3 separate regions of the Homo sapiens genome follow, and all the other regions are linked to region 1. The links come from fine-mapping of genetic effects on gene expression. A gene starts in region 1. Each other region holds a variant in brackets. All regions are shown on one strand. Distances are between the middles of the regions.

Region 1 (5,000 bases):
GTTCCATTGTGCCAAATCTTATCATAGGCATCAGGTTTTAAAGTCAGCTAGACAGAAAGAGACCACATACTGTCAAAATAACCCTGGGCTATCACTAGGAAAATACCACATTGGTGACCACACTTTCCAATATAGCGTGTTTCCCTTCCAATATTGGAAGAGATCACAGTTTGTGAACTTAGTGAGTACCAGATACGGAATGGCCTGTATTTCAGAGATACGCATGCTTATTGAGTAAAGTATCAGAACACCAAGTATTTAACAAACTATAGAAATGATCCCTGAAAGTACAGTCTTGAAAACATCAACTATTTAAGCTCTTATTTTGCTCTTCTTTTCTTCAGTAAAATATACATACACTGTAATACTGTCATACAGTGAAATCAAGTGCTCCTACTTAGGAGAAATAAAACTAATTTGCAAGAAAAACTTTTTTAATCCTCAACAATGTTCTCCCTAATTTTTCATTTCAAAAATATATTTCGAGAAAAAATTTTAATAGAAACATGTTGCTGTAATTTAGATTTAATTATACTAAATCCACAAATGTTTTCACATATTAAAGTCATCTTATTATTGGAGATACTCAGATGCTGTAAACATGTACACTTTTTAGATTTTTTTTTTCCCCTTGTAAACGAAAAACAAAAATGTAAGCACCCTCCGACCTCTGCCCCAGCCATCTGAAAGGGCCCCTCTTCTCCACCGAGGGCATATCCCAAAGCTAACCTGAAAAACCACTTCAGGCGACGATGGGAAAAGTGAGCCAGACATGCTCATTATACCCTCCTTCTTCTTGGAATTCTGGAAAAGCCAACCAGCATTAACATCAACACAGACCTTAGGTCTGATAAGAAACATTTACAATCTATTCTCTCTGAAGTCTGCCACCTGGAGGCTTCATCTGGCTAATAAAACCATGGTCTCCACATTCCTTTCTATTAATAACAATTCTTTCAACCAATTGCCAATCAGAAAATTTTTAAATCTACCTATGACCTGGATGCCCCTCCCCCTTTGAGTTGTCCCACCCTTCCAGATCAAACCAATGTAGACCTTACATGTATTGATCAATGTATTATGTCTCTCTAAAATGTATAAAAGCCAGCTGTACCCTGACCACCTTGGGCACCTGCCATCAGGACCTCCAGAGGCTGTGTCACCAGTGCATCCTTAACACTGGCAAAAAAAAAAAAATTGATTAAGGTCAGTCTTAAAATACTTTGGGGTTCACACCCTTCAAATGAAAATTGGCGTGGTCCTAGGGATCGTCCTAGGAGATAAAACATCACAATTTCCATGGAGTTCTTCATCATCTTTTATTGCCCTTTGCTTTGGTAATCCACAAAAAAAACTGTCTACTTTTTCTTCACTCTTCTACCTTTCTCGTGAACTCCTAAATCTAAAACTCTTGGAATATGGTATACAAATACCAAGTGCTAAAAAAAATCATTAATTTATATTTGTAAATACAATTTCAGTTTAACAGTGGTTCTCTAAATCCCTTAGCAGAACTTCACCAATAATTTCATATGACCTACTTTCATGTTAAAATTTAAAAGCTGAAGAGAGGTACATTAGTTAAAATTGAACACACAATATTTGTTTCAGACTAAGAATAAAGAGAAAGGGAAACAATCACTCTGCATATGAGGGTATTTTTTCACTGTCTCTACCCAGCTATTAAAATTTTGTTAATATCTTAAACCCAATTCAGATTTTGAGCCCTGTGTAGGTGTACAACTTAACCAGGAAAAACTATCTTCAATTATGTAAGCAGATAACTCTCACCAAAATGGTCCACAATTAGAAACCCTAGTCACATTCCCGAAATAACTATTTTTGCTGAAGCAGCTAGATCAACTATCCATGATGGATAATTAGAACTTACAAACACTCCACCTACTTTAAATACAACCAGTCACTTCAAATCTCAACCTTTTCAAAGTTAATGGTGGATTAAGATTGAAATCAGATTGAATGAACTTCAGAAATAAATCCACATAAAATAAATGGCAGGTTATTTTCACAAGTATACACTGAGTTCAACGTAAAGTAAACATACAGGATAACTTAAAACACACTCTCAATATGTTCTGTTGTACTTGCACAAAATAAAAAATGCAAGCTTATTCTCACAAGTATACACCGAGTTCAACATAAACAAAAATAAACATACAGTGTAACTTAAAACACACTCTGCACAGGTTCTGTTGCTTCTTGAAATGGGTAATGAAGGGAGCAGAGTAAGAAAATAAGGAAAACATATTTCCTGCAGGCTTATAAATACTTCCAAAGGGTATTTTCACATCCAACACACCCCTTTTAGTGGCACCATTGCTCTAAGCTGGGCTTCCAGCTGGGAATAAAGGCGCCCTGGGTCTGAAAGGTGTGAGGTGCTCAGAAGCAGTCAAGAACACGCTTTGCCGTCGTTTTTCAAGTCAGAACCCTGCTAACTCCACGTCCCGGAAACGCCCCAGGGCCTCCCACCCTCGCGGCTCCCGCCCCAGCGCCGGCATCGCCCACGCCGGCGACCAGGCTGCCTAGCAACACGGCAGGGCTGCCTGGCAACGCGGCCCACCCTGGCCCGCCCCCGCCCACAGGGGAAGGCCAAGGGGATCCATTCTACCTCCTTTTTCTTCTGTCCTCCCCCGAGCTGGATGCAGAGCAGCAGCAGCAGGAGAAGGAAGGGAAAGCTCCCGGTGGGCAGGTACCGCAGCCGCCGCCCCGCTTGCCTACGGCGTGAAGGAGCGCCCCGGGCCCCCATCGCGGCAGGGCAGTGTCTCCTCCACGCGCGGTAGCCGTGCGCGCCCAGCTCCTACCGCGCACCACGCCTGCCCGGCCAGCCTCCGGGAGCCCGCTGGCTGGGCCCTCCGGGATGGCAGCGGCTTTGCGAGGGACCCGGGCCGCGGCCGAGGACGCAGAGGAGGAGACTGACAGAGCATCCGGTTCACCGGGAGAAGACCTGGAAAGGCGCGGGATGGGGGCAGGAAGTGGGCGTGGCGAGGGAGCCAGGCTTCGGGGGCGCGGCGTGCGCTCCCGCCCGGAGCTTGCCTTTCCCGGACCAGCGCTGAGGAGAGGAGTGGTCCTTTGGCCCTGGGACCTCAATCTGAGGCCATCCTGCTACTGAACCCAATTACTGGGTAGTCCAGCACTTTACCTGGGGCCTAGCACAGAAAGACCTGAATGCCTTCTTGGATGATGAAGGGGAAGCTTTGGGGAATGACAACCTGGCCCCTGCGGTCCCCAGCAATCTCTATTCCCATTGAGATCATTATTAGGAACACAGCTCTTCTCCTTCAGAGCCCTGGGAAACCATCTAACTCCAGAGTCCCCCGATGCACAGAAGCCGCCCCACAACTTCACAACTGTTCCTTCCAGCCCCACTGGAAGGCCTGAGGCACAACCTAGACTCCACTTCATTCAATGACTCATTCAGCATCCATGGAGTGCATAAGTACAGAGCACCGTACTAGCTACTTTTAATATAAAAACGAATAGACTTACTTCAATTTCTATTCTATGAATATTTTAAGAACCATAGCAGACTGGACATGGTGGCTCATGCCTGTAATCCCAGCACTTTGGGAGGCTGAGGCAGGTGGCTCACCTGAGGTCAGGAGTTCAAGACCAGCCTGCCGTAACATGGGGAAACCCCATTTCTACTAAAAATACAAAAAGTAGCCGGGCATGGTGGAGCGCCTTGCAGTTCCTCTACTTGGGAGGCTGAGGCAGGAGAATGGCATAAACCCGGGAGGCAGAGGTTGCAGTGAGCCGAGATCACTCCACTGCACTCCAGCCTGGGAGACAGAATGAGACTCTGTCTCAAAAAAAAAAAAAAAAAAAAAAAAAGAACCATAGCAGCAGACTGTATGTTGAACGTTTGATATGGGCCTGATCCGTTCTAATGCATCATGGTTTTTATTACTCTAGTATCTAGAGATTTCTTCACTTGTGCCATGAACACCTTTGGTAATGTGATAAAACCTGTAGACGCCTTCTTAAAATAGCACATATTTCTAAACGCATGAAATTAAATACATAGTATTAGCCAGGCACGGTGGCTCACACCTGTAAACCCAATGCTTTGGGAGACCTATGCAGGAGGCTTGTGTCCAAGAGTTGGAGAGCAGCCTGGGCAAGATAGTGAGACCTTGTCTTTACGAAAAAAAAAAAAATTAACAGCTGGGTATGGTGGGGAGTACTTGTAGTCCTAGCTATTCCAAGACTGAGGCTGGAAGGATCACTAGAGCCCAGGAGTTTGAGGTTACAGTGAGTTCCGATCATGCTACAGCACTCCAGCCTGGGAGACAGAGCAAAACCCTGTCTCCAAAAATATATACAGAATATAAAAATATTATATATATAATACTTAAGGAATATATACGTATAATTGTTCAAGATATCTGCAACAACTTACTGAGTATGAAAATAATTTCTGTAGGAAACAAAGTTGTAGGTACTGATAATACTACTGTGGTTTGTTGCCTGCCTTTATAATTCAAAGAAACGAAACTGTTGTGAGGTTAATAGACATAAAGTTACGATTTTTTCAATACAAAGTTCACAGATGCTGAAATTTCATGGACTCCAGATTAAGAACGCTTGCTCCACAACAACCCTATCAACTAGGTTCCACTGTTAACGATTTTCAGATAAAGAAATTAAGGCCCAGAAAAAATTTGAACATTGACAGTCTGGCTCTACAGTCATGCTTATGCTACGATGCCTTTGTTAAAGGAGTTTACAAATATATATCACTTTTCTGTATCGCAAGCTTTTGATTTCCCACTATTATGTGAACATTTTGCCTGAATTATCACTCCTGTTAAAAACTTTAGACAAAATAAACTTTACACCTTATTTCAGCAAACAACAATTCATAAATCTGCAGCACTCTGAACCAGAAGTGTTCAGAAAGCTCAGCTCCAGTGGCCTGAGAGCAAGCTTCAATAGACTAAACATAAAAACAAAGTAAGGAAATTACCTAATTGGCTACA
Region 2 (5,000 bases), 72 kb before region 1:
TATCTCTTTGATACACTGATTTCCTTTCCTTTGGATAAATAACCATCATTGAGATTGCTGAATATTATGGTTGTTGTATTTCTGGTTTTTAAAGAAATCTCTATACTGTTTTCCATAATGGCTGTACTAATTCACATTCCCACGATGAGTGTACAAGAGTTCCCTTTACTACGCGTCCTTTTCCGAATTTTGGGGTGGTTTTTTTTTTTTTTTTTGGTCTTTTTAATAACAGCCTGAATAGCTGTACTTGTATACTTTCACTATATATAAAAAGTAAATTGGAAATTTCAATTCTAACCCAAGGAGTCTGTTTCATATATAAATTATTATGTAACTATATCCTTAGCAAAAAAGAATAATAATCCGGCATTTCACAGATTACTATGTCCAAGGCAATTTACAAATTTGTACAAGCATGACTTTAAATTTAAATGTCATGAAAACTTAAATTTTCATCAACTGTTGAATGGATAGACAAAATATGGTAGGTCCACACAATGGAATACTGCTAGGAAATAAAAAGAAGCCAACTTGTAACTGCCACGACATGGATAAGCCTCAGGAACATTATATTCACTGAAAGAAGCCAGACATAACAGACCACACATTTTATTCTCCCATTTATATAAAAAGTCTAGAAAGGCAAATTTATAAAGACAAGAAGTAGATAAGCAGTTGTCTGGGCCTCAAGGTAAGAACAGGGATTAACTGTAAACAGTCACAAATATCTTACTGAAGAGATAAAATGTTCTAAAACTGATTTCTAGTGATGGTTGTACCACTCACTAAAGTTACTGAAAGTCATTTAATCATACACTTAAATGAGTGCATGTTAAGAAATGTAAAACATACCTACATAAAGGCTAGTGGGCATAAGTGAGCCTCATCCAATACTAAAGACCCCCATCTCAGCCTAGACTCAGTGTTTCCATGAGGTGATTAAAAAAACAGAAACCTTAATTAAAATAATATGTGTTATGGCTAATGCAGAGAAAATACTTAGTTCTCTCAGAAACACAATTTTGGTACTAAATAATCTGAGAATTCTCAAGTCTTTAGGGGAGAAAAAAATAATTTTCTCTTCTATCCTTCATGGAGTTCTTAACTCAGACCCCCACCGAAAAAAAAAAAAAAATAACAAAACACCAGAAGCTTCACAAATGTATACTTCCTGTACACATGGGAGATAACACAGGGAAAATGAGTGAATCTCTAAATTAGATCTCAAAGGCCTAATTCAAACTTCTCTGTTTGGGTGTCCCTTTTGGTCTTCTGAAGAAAATTATGCTCATGAATCTCAGCTCCCTATTCCCAGTGAAGAATGAAAGTTGGGTCAAAAAAGTCCATGCTTAAAGGGAATGTTAAAGTTAAAGGAGAACAGAAATATCTATAAGATGGAATATAATACAACTCTTACAAAACCTGAGATAATGCTATATGTATTTGTATTAGTCTGTTTTCACACTGCTAATAAAGACATACCCGAGACTGGGTAATTTATAAAGGAAAGAGGTTCAATGGACTCACAGTTCCACATGGCTGGGGAGGCCTCACAATCATGGCAGAAGACGAAGAACAGCAAAGGGACATCTTAACATGGCAGCAGGCAAGAGACAGCATGTACAGGGAACTTCCCCTTCATAAAACCATCACATCTCATGAGACTTGATGTTTGTAAAACTGCATGGGCCAATGCATGGAAAACTCTTAGCACTGCATCTTACAAATGCTAAGACACTCAAATTTCTTTTCCTTTTCTTCAGGTCATGATCTAACAACAACACAGATCACATTGCTAAAAGAATTATCTGCAGTGGGAATTTTTTAAATCTCATTAATACCTTCAATCTCAGAGTTACCTAATGTTTCTGAGTATTACAAGAAAAGCACTGTGCTAAATTTACTTAAAAAAAAAAAGCACTGTAAGACATGTTACATGAATCCCATTGTCCCCAAATTTGGCACAAATAAGACAGATCCTACTCTCAAGCCCTTAAGGCAAATAAACTCTAGCACTAAAAAGTGTCCATGTGTACACACACACAAACACATATAAAATACATATATATGATATATATATATATATCATATATATAATATGGCTTATATTGATATGCGATGGCTGTAGCTCTGCTCTTAAGTAAACGGCTTAGTGCCAACTCAGGAAGGGATGGTAAAGAATATATTGTTTCTGTGAACATTAACTGATATTGTGGCTCCTTTAAATTCACTGCAGAAGATTCTGAAGTCTAGACTGGTCCGATCAGTGAAGAGTGGGTGATCGGTTGGCTTTGTCTCTTACTGATACAAGATGGGACATACAGTCCAAGATGCCATAAATCTGTCACATCAGAAAAGGAAAAAGAAATCTGTAACTTAGAATCTTCAAAAACAAAACAAAACAAAAAAGCCCCATCCTTGTTACTTTATAAAAAACAAAGGTTAGAAGGTCACATCTATGAATGAAGTTAATAGAATCAGTCATAATACGTTCAGATGCCCATTCCTCTTTCTTATATTTTTTCCTTCTTGTATTTTTATCTTAA[C/T]ATTTTATGAAGGCTTAACTTTATAGCAACTCAGTATAATAAACAAGCTGGCATAATCTATATACCAGTCTCCAAATTATGACACCACTCCATTTTTTCTCAATTCACATTTTACTACAATAACCAATTTATAACCAAAAATACAAGAAATAGTACATTGCATTAAACAATACGTAATACAATGGTTCATTCCAAAGTGAAGCTTAAATAGAATAAGAGCTCACTAATCTCATATTTTTTACTCTTTCTTGTTTGTTTGTTTGTTTCAACATTTTATCCCTAGGAACATGACCAGATGTACCAAGGCAAAAAGATATGTGGTCTCATGTCTTTAACCAAGATGCCTCTGCCAGGGGGGCAGCTATTCACGTGTTTGTTTACCAGTCACATATACAGTACTTATTCAGGTACCTGCTATCTGAATAGCAGGTACTCATCAAAATAGCCATAATAAAACTTGCTTATAGTAATTCACAGCATGCAGATCTGGAATGAGAACAAGACGTACATGTTGAAGGTATCAACTGCTAACCCACAGAAACAATATCATGACCCCTTCTGTTCTTCTTATATTTTTAAAGGAGTCTCTAAGAGAACAAGAAGCCTTTACTTTTCAAGACTCTAATATTTAAGGAGTTCAATGAAAACCCAACGATAAACCAAACATGAGCAGCCAGATGCATATCGTTTTGCATTTAGTAGAAAAGTTATCTTCCATGTTGGAAATTCGATCTTAAAAATCTGTATTCATATTTCTTAATATTATGTCATACTTAACAGATTTAAAAATATATAAAGGGCAATTAATGCTTCTAGGAACCAAAAAATCAGAGATTAAGCACTATACCACCTCATCTACATTACAAACTGATAGTTCAGTAAAGACCACCACTACCTTTAAAGGCACTCAGAAGACCACAATGAGCTATACAGTAAATTAAACAAATACACCATTTTTATCAGAAATATAAAATGCATACAGCACACACGCCATAAAGAAAGCAAAAATTCCAAGAGGTTAATCAGTTAAGAACTCAGCAAATCATGGTCTCTCTAGAGATAATGTAATCAGCAATCCATCAGAAAACAATTATCATTACATTCAAAAGCAAAAAGGTAGCCAGGTACGATGGCTCACGCCTGTAATCCCAGCACTTTGGGAGGCCGGTGCGGGCAGATCACGAGGTCAGGAGTTTGAGACCACCCTAGCCAACATGGTGAAACCTCCTCATCTCTACTAAAAATACAAAAATTAGCTGGATGTGTGGCAGGTGCCTGTAATCTCAGCTACTTGGGAGGCTGAGGCAGGAGAATCGTTTCAACCTGGGAGGCGGGATTTGCAGTGAGCCGAGATCACGCCATTGCCCTCCAGACTGGGAGACAGGGCAAGACTCTGTCTCAAAAAAACAACAACAGCAACAACAAAAAAGTTCTTTGAAATATTTGATACAGAACACTATAAAAATTAAAGAAAGAAATACTGTAAAATCCCAAACCAATTCCACCTCTGGGAAGATCCTAAAGACCTTTTGTTTGTGTAAAGTTATCTAATGAGAAATAGAGAAATTAAGTTATTCTAATATCACACTTTTTTTGAAAAAGAAGCTTTCAGTGGACGGTACTACAATATTCAATTAAGTGAACTTTTTCTAGAGACATATTAAAAATAAGTCCAGTAACACTCTTTTAGTTATGTGTCTATCAACCTGAACTCTCCTCAGAAATTTTCCCTGAGGAGAGATCCACATTTTGACCATCTTTGTACCCCGGAGAGCATCCTGAACACTGGTGGCTCCTGAGAGGCCCTCAAGCCCTCCCTATACCTCTACTGAATGAATGGAAAATTTGTAAAACTTTTACGCTCTAATATAGGAATTGCTAACACAGTAGCCCTATTCAAATGTCACTTTTTTAAAGGGGTTTACTTCAATTTGCCAGTCTCTTTGCTCTATTTATTCTCTGGTTCAAAGGCAAAAAAGAATATTTCGAAGTAACAACTGTTTCCGAAACTTGCATATGTATCTCACTTATATATAAAATCAGTATAACAATAAGAACTTAAGAATTGCTGTTGCCAGATGTTAAATTAATATTCCAAAGATTTAAAATAAATCAAGTTTGCTAGTATTTCCTTATTCATAAAAATTAATAAAGGAAGCAGTGAATTCACAGAAACACATCAACATTAAATTCTACATTGAAAATACCAGAAATGTTTCTCCATGAGAAACTTAACTACTCCCTTGCAGCAATAATTTTAAGAATTCTAATGTTAGATGTTGCTATACCTTAATTTTATCAGCGAAAACATCATGCAGTATACTGAAATATTTTGCATTTGATACTTGTGGTAATAACAAAATCGGATCAATGAATGTATGGAATTTTATGGATTTCAAAGTATGCTATGAAATAAATCCAGTGCCTAAAACGCAAAGCCCCTCATAAAAACAA
Region 3 (5,000 bases), 200 kb before region 1:
GCAAAGCAAAAAAGCACAAAAGTAATGAAGTAAGATGATATCAGGATTAGATGAAAATGATAACAAGCATTGGGCAAAGAACATAATTGCTAGCCCAGTTTCAGCATGAAATATCTTTAGGCTAAGAATAAAAATCTTCTTCATAAAGCACAGAGCATTCAAATACATTTTACTACTCCATAAACATATTCCAGATTTTACAAATAAGTTTGCAATAACTCACAAAATTGCCATTTTAAAGATGTCTATGAATTTACCTTTATATCACTTATGTTTCACGCTGCTTTAAATCATTTTTATAATTTACTATTTTTGTTGGGAGCAAATGCAGTAACAATATAGCATTTTTCAAATTATATGAGTTAAAAAAATATGCAGACTCCCTATTAACAGGGCAGAAATGGAACAGAAACCCCAAGTCAACATGAAAATTTTAAGATTTCAGCATGTCAAAAACCTCAGCAAATCATCAATTATCATTAATTATATGTGCCAGAAGTATGCTCATGAACTACACTCCTATAAAGCTATTCCCAAATAAATAAGGCAAAACATAAAATACTGAAAAAACTTAATATACATACAAAAATCTATTTTAGAATAATTTATATAGTGAAAAATTAAAATGTAAATGTCCAACTATAACATATGAGATATTTTTGTGACAGGTTAACTAGCCATATAAAATGAAATTGACAAAAATTCTTAATAACAAAGCAAGAGGCCAGGCGCAGTGGCTCACGCCTGTAATCCCAGCATTTTGGGAAGCTGAGGCAGGCGGATCACAAGGTCAGGAGTTCAAGACCAGCCTGGCCAATATGGTGAAATCCCGTCTCTATTAAGAATACAAAAATTAGCCAGGCATGGTGGCGCGTGCCTGTGGTGCCAGCTGCTCAGGAGGCTGAGGCAGAGGAGTTGCTTGAACTTGGGAGGCAGAGGTTGCAGTGAGCCGAGATTGCACCACTGCACTCCAGCCTGGGCAACAGAGTGAGACTCCCTCTCAAAAAAAAAAAAAAAAAAAAAAAGCAAGATATATTAATAGTAATTTTGTCACCATACCAAGTGAAAAGATGTATATGTTTGTATAATATGTATAAAAGTATATATAAAACCTGACTCCTTTAAAACAAATGCAAAGAAATGATTGCAGGGAATGAAAGATAAAAACAGTAACTGTTCACGGGTGAGTTAATAAAAGTGTGGATTTTTGTGTTCTTTATTGACCACAGCCTATAGAGCAGAAATTGCCATACTTTTTCAGGAAAGAGTCACACGTATTTTCCAGCTATGCAAGTCATATGGAGTCTGTTGCTATTACTCAACTTGTTGTAGTGCAAAAGTAGTCACAGGCAATACGTAAATGAATGGGTGTTTCTGTGTTCCAATAAAACTTTATTTACAAAAATAGCAGGCAGGTTGGATTGGGCCTGAACTGGTCCTAGTTTGCCAAACCCTGCTGTAAAGATTTTAAGGTGATGTCAAAAAAACTGTATACCATTATGTCTCACTGGAATTTAGCTTTATTCTTACTTGACAATTTTTTAAAATGCAAGAATTTAGTAAACATTTGTGCACACAACCTTAAAGTGGGAATTTTAAAGCAAAGGGATTACTAGACATAGGTTATATACAACCTCAAGATAAAATGTTTTGTTAGAAATCAGCGGGGTCAGTAAGTAAGTATGATCTCTTTCTCAGAATGTTTCTTGCAAAAGTGAGTTTTCTAAGCTTTAACAAGAAAAGAGCAGTGAGCCGTTTAAAAACCTGATGGGTGTAATTAAGACATATGAATTATACTAAAATGGCTTTAAGCTCGCTAACCCTCCCTATTATTTAAAGATACATTTTTTAACTCAAGGCCTTTAGGAGTTGAGTTGAGAATCGTTTAGCTTAAATTTCATTGTATTAACTGAAACATTTTTGGCTGAAAAAGAGACTGAATAATACTTACCATTTGGGGAAAATTACATTTGTAACATAAAAATCTTAATTTTTATATGCAGGAAGAAGCTAGATGATCATCTCTCACTGTTCTTACGTGGCATTTCTTTCACTGAGTGGAAGGCTGAATGATTAATGAAAGACCCTCCAAATCTGAAAAGATTCTACGTCTGACCAAAAAGAATGTTACGTTCTTTTTTGGTCATTAAATTGATGGGTGTAGCCGTCTAGCTTTGCCTTATTGGAATATCCCAGCATTAAAAGAAAATAACAGATGGACCTCTACCCTTTATCCTATACACACATACTTTGGCCTAGTTTTTGTATTACTTTGCACATTTTTATTGATTAATATCATGGCAATATATATTTAAACTACTGTGCACACTCCAGTTTCTTTGCTGATCCTGTTGATCATTTTCCTACTGCTTAGTCAAAATACTGACATGATCCCACATAAAAAAGCTGCTATTTGTGTAAATTACATACAATACCCAGAGGCACTGAGCATTCTACAGAATTAGTAACGAATATATTTACAAAACATTATAATCCCTTCTCAATTGCATATGCTAAGTTTACTGTTGCTACTAGGAATGGAATCAAGATGTTTTCAATTTAAAGATAGATAAATGTAAATAGACGTTGAAAAAAATGTTAGCACATTATAGAAGACTTACTTAAAGAATTCTAAATCTAAAATTTTCAACTGCATCTATCATTAATTTTTTTCTATAGTATGTTTCTCCTTGGATATAACACATTAAAAGGAATGTTTGCTCTCTATAATAGACTAGAAACAGATGCGAATAAAATCATATTCTTTCATAATAAATGGAAAAAATGTTTTGCTCACAGAAAATGCAATGTTATCTTTATAAGAATAAAAATTTTAAATTGCTAGTATAACCTTTACTTTTATATAAATAATTTTACTTCTAACTAATATTTATTTCATGTCATTTTCTTGAGATCTTCTAACTTAGGTCAGAGATTATATAGTTGACACTAAAGCTTATCCTAGAACTCACGTGTTCTATATCCACTCATACAGAGAGACCATATCTTGGTGAATTCAGTGGGAACATTACTGTCTACGGAAACTAAT[T/C]TGATCTGGTTGAAATTTTAAATAAAATTTTAAATGACATAGTTCTGCCCCTCCTGGACTGACTACTGATTGATAGAAAAAAAGGCAGATTAGTTAGGACAGTAAAATCATACATATCTGCAAACATTTCTCTAAATGTGAAATGAAGATGCCTTTTTATTTTAGAAAACCACTACTTGTAATTACATGTCTGTTTTATTGTGCCATATTTATAAGTGTATTTAGTAAGAAAAGCAGATTTAAGATTATCTCATTAAAATCATACATGAGGTTTTGAATTTTAAGAACATTCTATAATCAAAAACATACCCTACCTTAATTTTATCATTTGATACCACAGTTCAAATTCTCTACTCTGGGAAATTATATAAAGAGTTTTAAACACAATTTTATATATTTCATATGCATACTAATTCTTCCAATTATGGTTTCAAAAACTGCATATTTTCACTTCATGATATTCCACTTAAGATCCATGTGCCTCAAGCCTGAGTCTACTGAATTTTGGACATTTGAAAACTTTTTAAGAACATAATTGTAAATGAAGAATTATTTGCACTGTCATTTGTTGTGTGTCTTCCTCTTCCTTTAGACTGTAAATGCCACACCATCAGACATCTTGTCAGGTTTTGTGACTCTTGTATCTCAGCACAAAGCACATGCACCTGCGTGTATGTGTGTATTTATGTTTACATATCCCCACACACATTTGTTTTTATACTGCTAGAGGATATTGTCTTCTGTACAAAAATACGATAGAATAACTAAAGAAATATCGCCGGGCGTGGTGGCTCATGCCTGTAATCCCAGCACTTTGGGAGGCCAAGGTGGGCGGATCACGAGGTCAGGAGATCGAGACCATCCTGGCTAACACAGTGAAACCCCGTCTCTACTAAAAATACAAAAAAAAACCAAAAAAACAAAAAAAAAAAACCCATTAGCCGGGTGTGGCAGCGTGCACCTGTAGTCCCAGCTACTTGGGAGGCTGAGGCAGGAGAATGGCGTGAACCCGGAAGGCAGAGCTTGCAGTGAGCGGAGATCACGCCACTGCACTCCAGCCTGGGCGACCAAGAAGTGAGACTCCGTCTCAAAAAATAAAAATAAAAAATAAATCAACATATCCACTGTATCTTTATTATGATGATCTTTTCAGATATTTACAACAAATAAACACAATATATAATTTGGTGAGAACATTACTGGCCTATTCACCACAGAGGTTTTGATTTATTGGCAAAATATTACTAAGTAGAAAAACAATGGGTTAAAAGTTTTAAGTTCTTGACTCTTCAACTGATTGGCTTTATGATCTTAAGCAATTTAAACAAATTAATCCCTTTCTCATCAACCAATTATGAGGCCTAATCAATCTTAGGAACTTTTTTGGGCTAAACATTGCCCTCCAAACCTTGTTCTCCTCCATATTTCTATCCTACAACACATAGCTGAACTTCAGAATCATCTCTGATTCCTGTTCTTGAACCTTACTTGTGACATTTATTATCAATTTTGTTTCTTCTTCCTCTAAAACAGCAGCTGAGTCACTCTCCATTCCCTTACTTAGGTTCATGCTGGAGGATGAACCATTGCCAGCAGCCAGAACGACTGCCAGCGACTCCTGCTTCCTTTGCTCTACCTTCTCTACCCTATCCTTAATATTATTACAGGAGCAAGCCTCCATTGGCTTTCTGTTCCCTAAACAGGCATGACGCTACTATTTCCCTTTCCACAGCCAAATTTATCAAGAAGACATGCGGGGCTCAACCTCATAATACTTCAAAAAGAATTCGTAAGTTACCCAATGCCAAATATATAAAATTGGCATATTAATTGCACTGCATCTACTACGTGTAGCTAAGATTCAAATTTCTCAGCAAGGTCTTCATTATCCAGCCTAACCTAACTTTCACCAATCTCCTCAAAATTTGTATTCCAGCCTTGATGAATTTAT

Direction of the effects. Positions count from the first base shown, and alleles are read on the strand shown. Sizes are in standard deviations (SD) of each study's normalised expression.
For the expression in cerebellar hemisphere of the gene that starts at base 2,935 in region 1, allele C in region 2 goes with a higher level than allele T (moderate effect, 0.44 SD a copy in GTEx).
With allele T in place of C in region 3, the expression in prefrontal cortex of the gene that starts at base 2,935 in region 1 is higher (small effect, 0.18 SD a copy in GTEx).

Evidence for each region.
Region 2: its variant is fine-mapped to the expression of TUSC3 in cerebellar hemisphere (GTEx, PIP 0.98). The same link has a PIP of 0.9 or more in cerebellum.
Region 3: its variant is fine-mapped to the expression of TUSC3 in prefrontal cortex (GTEx, PIP 0.90).

The regions. Positions count from the first base shown.
Region 1 is chr8:15,538,198-15,543,197 of GRCh38, reverse strand. It overlaps TUSC3 (tumor suppressor candidate 3), which reads right to left and starts at 2,935. Exons shown (of 11, transcript NM_006765.4): 1 at 2,630-2,935. The coding sequence starts at 2,767.
Region 2 is chr8:15,610,151-15,615,150 of GRCh38, reverse strand. The region is part of intron 1 of TUSC3 (tumor suppressor candidate 3); the gene reads right to left. Among named protein-coding and RNA genes, the nearest start is that of TUSC3, 72 kb to the right of the region's middle. The variant C/T (reference allele first, on the strand shown) is at 2,547.
Region 3 is chr8:15,734,853-15,739,852 of GRCh38, reverse strand. All of the region lies in intron 7 of TUSC3 (tumor suppressor candidate 3), which reads right to left. Among named protein-coding and RNA genes, the nearest start is that of TUSC3, 200 kb to the right of the region's middle. The variant T/C (reference allele first, on the strand shown) is at 3,050.